Linked DNA regions of Homo sapiens: region 2 is reported to be linked to region 1. The links are microRNA targets in miRTarBase. Many come from high-throughput screens and were not tested one by one. Region 1 holds a microRNA gene; the other region holds the end of a gene's coding sequence.
The links. Region 1 holds the annotated microRNA hsa-miR-548y (AAAAGUAAUCACUGUUUUUGCC, at 2,350-2,371, shown strand). A microRNA usually pairs through its seed, bases 2 to 8, with sites in the 3' UTR of a target mRNA and lowers its output. Matches are read on the target gene's strand: a 7mer-m8 pairs with bases 2 to 8, a 7mer-A1 pairs with bases 2 to 7 and ends in A, and an 8mer does both.

Region 2: the mRNA of FRY is a reported target of hsa-miR-548y. Seed matches in the 3' UTR shown: 7mer-m8 at 1,328-1,334, 7mer-A1 at 2,600-2,606 and 7mer-A1 at 4,006-4,012.

The regions. Positions count from the first base shown.
Region 1 is chr14:47,758,780-47,763,431 of GRCh38, reverse strand. It overlaps MIR548Y (microRNA 548y), which reads left to right and starts at 2,328; the gene lies at 2,328-2,437.
Region 2 is chr13:32,295,055-32,299,379 of GRCh38, forward strand. It overlaps FRY (FRY microtubule binding protein), which reads left to right. Exons shown (of 61, transcript NM_023037.3): 61 at 148-4,071. The coding sequence ends at 406. Among named protein-coding and RNA genes, the nearest start is that of ZAR1L, 18 kb to the right of the region's middle.

The DNA.
Region 1 (4,652 bases):
GCCCTACTCATATAAATCCACCAATTCTTTCAGTTTCTGTTTCTCTTCACTGATTCTTCTCATGGTCATGGCTCACATTTTCCTGCTTCTTCTCATATACAGTAATTTTAAATTTGGCCCCAAACTATGAGAGCTATATTGTTGAGTGTTTGGATTTTGTTGCCATCCTTTTACAAATGTCAATTTCATTTGGCTAAGTAAGTATGTAATTGTGGATCAGTGTGATTCTTTAGAGGTTTGCTTTTAAGCTTTTTAGGCTGGACTTAGAGAATTCTTTACCTCGGGACTACTTTAGCACTTATACTAAGGCCTGAACCTTCTCATGTTTCCACTGAATGTTGTAGATGTTCAATCTATTCTGGTTGGTTCAGAAGTAAACATTTCCCCGCCCTACCTGAGCTCTGGGAGTCCTTCAGCTTAAAGCTCCCAGCCCTTTGACTTTTCCCATGCATGTACAACTTAGTACCTAGAACATTCTCAAGGAGACCCCTGTGCATATTCCTGGAGCTCCTCCTTCACCTACTTTCCTTCTCACTGGTAATGTGTCCTACACATTCAATATTCCAGGTAAGTCAGTCTTCCCTAACTCTGATCTCTGTTTACTCAACTCAGTGAGATCATGCTAGTGACCCCCTCTGCACCACAGGTTGGAAAGTAGTTCCAGGCAGTTAATAGAGCTCACTTTGTTTCCACTTCCCTTGGACCATAATCCTAAATTGCCTAATCTCCTATATCTGAAAGAATTTGACTCATACATTTTCCAAGTTTTCCAGATATTTATAATGTTAGGAAAGCTCCTGTCTCTGTTAATCAGCATGGCCAGAAGTAAAATTCTGTGTCTGTTCATTCTTGACATTTTCGTGTTTACTGATTTTGTAATTTCACCTATTATTTATTTAAACATTTCATATATAGCATTTTACATTCAATTTCTGATAATTTCTATATCTGAAGCCATTGGGAGTCTTAATTAGATGTTTGCTATTTGTTGTTTCTGCTGTCTCACTCACCATGGCTTGATTTCTTTAATCTTAATCTTTAGGTATCCTAGGGTCAACTTTTTCTCCAGGGTAGAATTTGAAATTATCTCTGCTAGGAGTTTGATGTAGTAAGACCTGGGACCAGGCTTGCTGACATAATGCCAGGTTTCCAGGATCAGCTCCCTCAAGCTTAGTCTCTGGAACACAATGCTAATTTCAACACTTGTCTCAGGCTAGCTCCAACTTTCCCATTTGTGTCTTGCAGGTAGCGCACTGTTCTTTGATTCTATCTCAGGATTCAGGTCATTTTTTGCATGTTTATTAGGTTGTTTATTTAAGGGGTGCTTGGAGATTTACTTATTTCCCTGCAACCACAGCAGTGCATTGAAATGTAGATTTTATAAAGAAGCTAGTAGTTTTCCTCATAAGTTATTTATGTTGATTCTGAAGATCTTTATGTCTTGGGTGTTTGGTTTTGGTTTTAGCACTGTGTGTGTGTGTGTGTGTGTGTGTGTGTGTATGTGTGTGTGTGTGTCTGTGCGTGTGTGTGTAATTTCATCTTATTTTGCAGCAGATCCAGTGTGCTTCTCAAATATTAGGTTCATGCTATTGATTTTGAAAAAATCATCATTACCATCTCATTCCCTCTTATTCTTTCATTGAATCTATCCCATTTTAATCTATTATCTTATTTATCTCTTAAACTTGCTTTTAGTAACTGTAAAATCCTCAGCTCTTTCTCTCTGTTAATTGCCTGTTGAGAATTATCTGCTTTTTAATCATCGTGTCGGAGTCTATTATTTGCTTTCTCAATATCCATATATTTCGTGTAGTAATGCTATTTTTAGCTGAATATGTGTCCATTTACCTAAATATAACATTTTTCAGCACTTTTTGCAGCTACTTTGGGTCAGTTAAATGGTATATACGTGAAATTGATGTACAACATTTGGATCACAGTTTTAAAAGGAAAAGAGTAGGTCTTCCCATTCTTCTTTCCCACTACAATGGAATGTATGTTTGTGGCCCCCTAAATTCATATGTTGAAACCGTAATCCCTCATCTCAATGTGATAGTGTTTGGAGGTGGTACCTTTCAGAGTCGATGAAGTAATACTGTTAGTGCTCTCATGGATGGGATTAGTGCTCTTATGAGAAGAGGCCATAGAGTAGCTAGCTCTCTTCCCTTCATATGAAAATAAGATCTTGGTAGTCTATAAACCAAGAAGTGAGCCTCAACAGACACATAATCTGCCAGCACCTTTATCTTGAACTTCCTAGCCTCCAGCACTATGAGAAACAACTGTTTGTTGTTTAAGCCACCAGCCTATAGTAGTTTGTGACAGCAGCCTAAACTATTAGGTTGGTGCAAAAGTAATCACTGTTTTTGCCATTACTCTCAGTGGCAAAAACCGTGATTACTTTTGCACCAACCTAGTAACACCTTCACTGTGGGGGTGCAGACATGGCAGATGTGGAGCATCCAAGCTGGACTCTGATTAAAAAGCTAATTGAGGAAGTTACAATAAAGGATCTGGTTTGTTGACAATGTGGAAATGTCTTATCTATCATCGAAGTCCTGAAATGCTTACAATTTATGAAAGAGAAATAGGCCGGGCGTGGTGGCTCACGCCTGTAATCCCAGCACTTTGGGAGGCAGAGGCAGGCGGATCATGAGGTCAGGAGGTCGAGACCATCCTGGCTAACACGGTGAAACCCCGTCTCTAACAAAAGTACAAAAAATTAGCTGGGCGTGGTGTCGGGCACCTGTAGTCCCAGCTACTCCGGAGGCTGAGGCAGGAGAATGGCGTGAACCCGGAAGGCGGAGCTTGCAGTGAGCCAAGATGCATCACTGCACTCCAGCCTGGGCGACGAGCGAGACTCTGTCTCAAAAAAAAAAAAAAAAAAGAAAGAGAAATAAACATCTATCTTATCTGAACTACTGTTTATGTGGAATTTTGTCAAAGCCACCCATATCCTGTTCAGGATTTATATATATTATATATATATAAATCTATATATTAGAAGGTTTTTCTTATTTAATATATTTTTCATTTTATAACTTCTATTTGGCCTCTTTTCAAATATATCTGCTTTTTATGTCACCTTATCTCTTATAGTAATTGATTTCCTCTTTCCTGCTTCATTCAATTTAAAGCTACTTATTTTATAGTCTCTATGTCAGAGTCTGATCTGAGAAGCAGTACCACCAGATTTGTGTATAATAAGGGATTTGTAATAGGGATTTGCCTTATATATTTGTGGAAACTGTTGAAAAGTCTTTGTGAAACTATTGTTTCTGTGTCTAGTGCTGAGCCTAAAGTCATCAGCGCACACAGTCTGAAAGATAAAATGGACGTAAAATGAGGGAAGCGAGACAAACTGGTACCTGCAAGAATAAACCCGAATCTATCAGGACAGAGTTGCAACCCTGCTTCCATGTGTCCAACTTTAAAGTTGGGGTAATCTGCAGGAGGAGCTGCTATGAGCTAAACCATACCTCACTGAAAGTCAGAGTGATTGAAAGTGGGTGTCTGGCAGCTGTGGCATTTCTGAGGGCCCAGCTACTGCCCTACTCCAACAATGTGATCCCACAGATAAATGACACCTGTGTGAGCTACAACAGTGCCATGTGCCCAGTGCTGACTTTCTGAAAATAAAAAGAATATAGATGCTGTTTCATTTCATCCTTCCAACTCTCATACAAAATATCTCTCATGGCCCTCACTAACAAAGATGATATGGTTTGGCTGTGTCCCCACCCAAATCTTATCTTGAATTCCCGAGTGTTACGTGAGGGACCTGGTGGAAAGTAACTGGATCACGGGGGCAGGTCTTTCCCATGGTGTTGGGTGGGTCTCATGAGATCTGATGGTATTACAAGGGGGAGTTTCCCTGCACAAGTGCTCTCTTTCTTTGCCTGCAGCCATCCATGTAAGACATGACTTGCTCCTTCTGCCGTGATTGTGAGGCTTCCCCAGCCACATGGAACTGTAGGTCCATGTTAAACTTCTTTCTTTTGTAAATTGCCTAGTCTCAGGTATGTCTTTATCGTCAGTGTGAAAATGGACTAATACCAAAGAACTATGCTTGGAGGGGAATTCTGGGGAATGCAATTCCAGTTTAGTTCATTTGGCATGATACAAATCCACCATAGTCTCTGTAGTAACCAACATTCAATATTTTCCTAGTAAACATTGGCTCCTGGTATTCACACTCCTATCTAATTCCATCCCACAATTAATAGGACTTACATATATGACAGATAGAATATTGTTGAAGTGAAAGTGTGTGATGTAAGAATTAGGTCATTAAAAAGTTTACAGCCTCCTCTCTGGTCTTCCATTTTTCTCATTTTGGGAGGAGTTAGCTACCGTGTTCTGAGGACACTCAAGTAGCCATGTAGAGAAGATCATATGGAGAAAAAACTCAGGCTGACTGCCAACAGTAAGCACCGATTCTCCAGCCATGTGAAATAACATTAGAAGCAGCTTCTTCATCCCCAATCAATTCTTTAGATAATTCAAACCAGTCAGCCCTCAAGTCTTCCAGCTGATACGTCAAATAATGTGGAAGTGGAAAGAAATCACCCATCTGCACTGAGTGTGTGACCCTTAAAAACTGAGAGATAATATGATTAGTGTTGTTTAAGCCACTAAGCAACAGTTAAATA
Region 2 (4,325 bases), not on the chromosome of region 1:
CCTTAGATGAGTGAATTACCTGATACAGGAATTCCATCTCAATAAAGCCTTTTTAAAAAGTAATACTCTTATATTAATGAAGACTCATAAGCTCCCAACTTTGTGACTAATAGTGCCTCTAATCTGTGCTGTTCTTTTTGACTGCAGAAGTCTGTGGCCCAATGACATCTTTGGAAGCAGTTCTGATGATGAGGTCCAGACACTACTGAATATTTATTTCCGTCACCAAACTCTGGGACAGACGGGTACTTATGCCCTGGTGGGGTCTAACCAGAGCCTGACCGAGATCTGCACCAAGCTGATGGAGCTGAACATGGAGATCCGGGACATGATCCGCAGGGCCCAGAGTTACCGAGTCCTCACTACTTTTCTTCCAGACTCCAGTGTTTCTGGCACTAGTCTCTGACAGGAGCCTCCTGTCCCCACTGGGTTCCAAACTGGCAGTGCTGCCATGCTGGGGCAACGTCATTCAGTGTCTTCTCGGCCTTCAAAAGGCTTGGACAGACTGTTCTCCCTCTTGTTACCTGTAGGGCTTTTTCTAAAGAGGATGGCAGAACTTCCAACGTGTAGCAATACTATAAGAACCAAGGTAGCTTAGAACGTCCTGGACAGACTCCACTCATCATGCTGTGTGGCACAAATGTGTTACATTTGACCGAGCATATGCAACTCGCTACTGAAGAAGTGACTTCCGTTGCATACCAAAGCCGACTACACTGAACAGTACCTTCCTTTCTAGAAACAATTTTAGATTGGCAAAAGTGCAATGTTTTCTTCACTCAAAAAATTTTATATTCTCAAACATGTATATTCTTTCCCTGTCTTGTTCCATTTTCTTTTCTTTTTTCTTTTTTCTTTTTCCTTTCTTTCGTGGGCTGAGAAAGGGGCAGGCAAAATGAAGCTGGCCACTGAAAACTGTAAGATGGTCAAAAGCTGACAGCCTGTGTATGTGAAAAGGGAATTGTAAATGGACTGCAATGTAATGTACACTGTAATTTGAATACAATTACTGTATCTAAAAGGAGCTGCTATGAAGTACCTTTCTTATGTTGCTAGGCTACTGTTTCTGAAAGCCCTGGATCTCTTTGCACCAAAAATGGTCCAGATAGACTCTTTTTAAGGATCTTGGCTGCTTTTTACTAGAAGGTTGCTTTTATGAGCATATTTATACTGCTGAAGGATGAGTGTTAATTTTAATTAACTTTGCCGTTTTGTAGAGAAAACTATTCACAAGATAAATTCCAAGTCTTTTCACCTGTCAGGCATGCATATTTTAATATCTGTTTGGATAGTCAGAAGTAGAATCATAAAGGTAAAATATGAGTTGTTACTTTGTTTCTTCGATGTCATATTTTATGTGTAATATATATGTAAAGGGCCATTCTTAAGTTCTCTCCTTAAACTTAATGCTGTCAAGTGTTAGATGTGTGCATGTGAACTTGTTGCACTGCAGAAACATATTCAGAGTTTATCTATGTAACTTATTCACTCTGTAAATACATTTAAAGTTTTTGTGATGTAAGCTTAATTGATATTCTGTTCAGAACTTTCTTTAGACTAAAAAAAAAAAAAAAGACAAAATACACGTTGACCATGGACTTTATTTCTGGTTAATGAAAATGTTTGTCCTGGGCACACATGAAGTTTTGCATGTGGGTTGCCAAAGTAATAACCCCAAGGGGCACCCCTCGCATGTATGATCTGAATGGCACCCGTGGGGGTCATGCCATGCATGGCCCTGTGAAGCTGGAGGTAAGTATTATCTCTTTGGAAGTTGGCATCAAAACTGTGAGCTTCAACCAATTCTCTGTAATCAACCAAAGAGAAAAATCAGAAAAAAGTGAGAGCTCTAATTCTCCATAACCTATAATTAGGTTGTCATCCTTCAAATTTGGAAGTTAATTCTATAGTGAGCAGGAAAAAGTAGTAGAGTTGTAATTCTGTCACCAACACCTATCCCCCAGGAACACAGGGAGAAACATGTAACAATCTCATTTATGCCGTCTTTCTACTCATATTTTACATGGACCAACAAATATAGCTTGCTTTACTAGCATATGGCTACTGAATCATTGGCAGTAATATTCTAGGAGTATTCTATAGAAGAGAGCCTAACCTAGGATTTTTTTTAAATCCTAGTAGTTGCTACAGATGCAACTACTAGATTTTAATAATTTTCTGGACTGCTGAAAACATATTTTTCTGATGATTTATTTTTTTCAACTTGCCTGAAAGATGATTTGCTATGATTTGTAGAAACAACTGAATCATGATCTCTCTGAAAAATATCATAAAATAAAGGTTTCTGTGGCTAACCACAGTAGACAACTTTCAGAGAGTTTTGTTGGGAGCCACAGTAGAAAGAACAGATTCGTCATGAACTGAGTTTTCTACCATGGCTTCTTACCCAGCAGAGAACCACCGTGATGGTTTACTCTTAAAAAGGGAAGGAAAAAAAAAAAGGATTTCAACAGTACATTACAATCCAAGATATTAACATAGGAAGCAGTGGTCTGTGTTTTTCTCAATTTTATTTTTAAAAGGAGATGTATTAATGTGAAAGGTTTCTTCTACTTTTCCTCTATCTCTTCACCTCCTCTACTTTAAGTGGAGATGGGAAAAATTGTGTAGGATGCAGCCCCACGCCAGCAGAGCCCAGCAATAACTTTAGATCTACCAGTCAAATCTTGTCGGCTATTGCTCTGTGCCTCTGTTACAGAAGCATTAATGTTAATTGCCTTCCCCAGGGATACAAAGAAGTAGAAGTACCAAAGGAAAGGGTAGATATTTAACAGATGCCTCAGTGATAAGAAAGATGCCTCCTTGTGTCTCACTGTTTTCTAGCACTGAAACATGATACACTTTGTATCCACCTGCAGAATAAAGCAATCCAGACAGGCGCTCTGTAACTTAGACATCACTTGATTAAAATTATAGTCTCCAAATATAGTGTTTTAGAAAAGGCACTGCACATTTTTAGAGGCACGTGAATGTCATTCCCACCTCTAACCCATCTAACATCGGTGAGATGTTAAGAAAATGTGCCGATGTTACTGTGAAATAAAGATGCCTGTAATTAATTGTAGGCATCACACACATGCGTGAACATCCAGAGTTAGGTCTCAAGGCTCTTCTGGTTCTAAGTCCTAACAAACAATGATCTTTTCAGTGAACTGTAGAATTCTGGAAAGAATAAGCGTACCTCCAGGCTGCTTACATCAATAGCTTACACGTGCTTCCTGATGCCTGCCTTAACAACAAAAAATTCGTGTCCATAGGTGAGTATTAGGGTATGTTCATTGTATCTCAATGAAACTAGTTTTTAAAGTTTTCAATGCATTTGTTTGAGATCAATTAATATTTGGATACCTATCATGACCCAGGATATTTCTTTGTTCAGCAAATATTTATTGCATGCCCACTCTGGGCTAGGCACTGTTTTAGAGGACACCGCAGCTATCAAGGCAGATGTGGTCCCTGTTCCCATGAGGCTCCTACATTTGAGTGGAGGAAGATGTACTTGTCTACGTTGGGTGATGATTAGTGCCATGAAGAACAAAACGGATACAGTGAGTAATGTGGACAGGGCTATCTTAGCTATCACTCTAATAAGGTGATATCTGAGGAGAGATCTGAATGAAGTGAGGATACAATGGATATCCAAGGAAAAGAGCATTCCAGCAAAGGAAAAAACACATGCAGAGACCCTGAAGGAGAAGCAGGGTCACTTTGTCAAAGGGACAGCAAGGAAGCCAATGACCGGGTGAAATGAGTGAAGAGAGCGTTCAGAGAGGACAGCCAAAAGCTCTGTGGGCCACGGCAGGACTTTGTCCCTTGCTGAGCAAGATGGGAAGCCACTGAATGTTTGCGGGCAGGGTAGTGACATGCTGTGACTTATGTTTAAAAGGATTACTCCTTCATAGCGATGAAGAAAAGCTCTATAACAAAAGTTCCGTTGTGGTGGTTATACAGCATTGTGAATGTACTTAATGCCAATGAATTGTGTACTTTAAAATGGTAAATTTTATGTTATATATGTTTTACCACAATAAAAATAATTTTTTTAAAGGATCATTCTGGCTGCTATGTGCAGAATAGACTGCAGATGGGCAGAGGTAGAAGCAGGAAGACTAGAGAGATGGCTGTGGCAACAGTGCAGTCACCAGGCGATGCTGGCTTGGGCTAGGGTACTAGCAAGGGATATGATTAGTTGTGGGCATATTCTGGAAATAGTTCAGAGCTAGAGCTGACAGGGCTTACCAATGACACGTGGAATGGGAGAGAGTTTAGCCCAAACAGCTGGAGGAATGGAGTTTCCACTAACT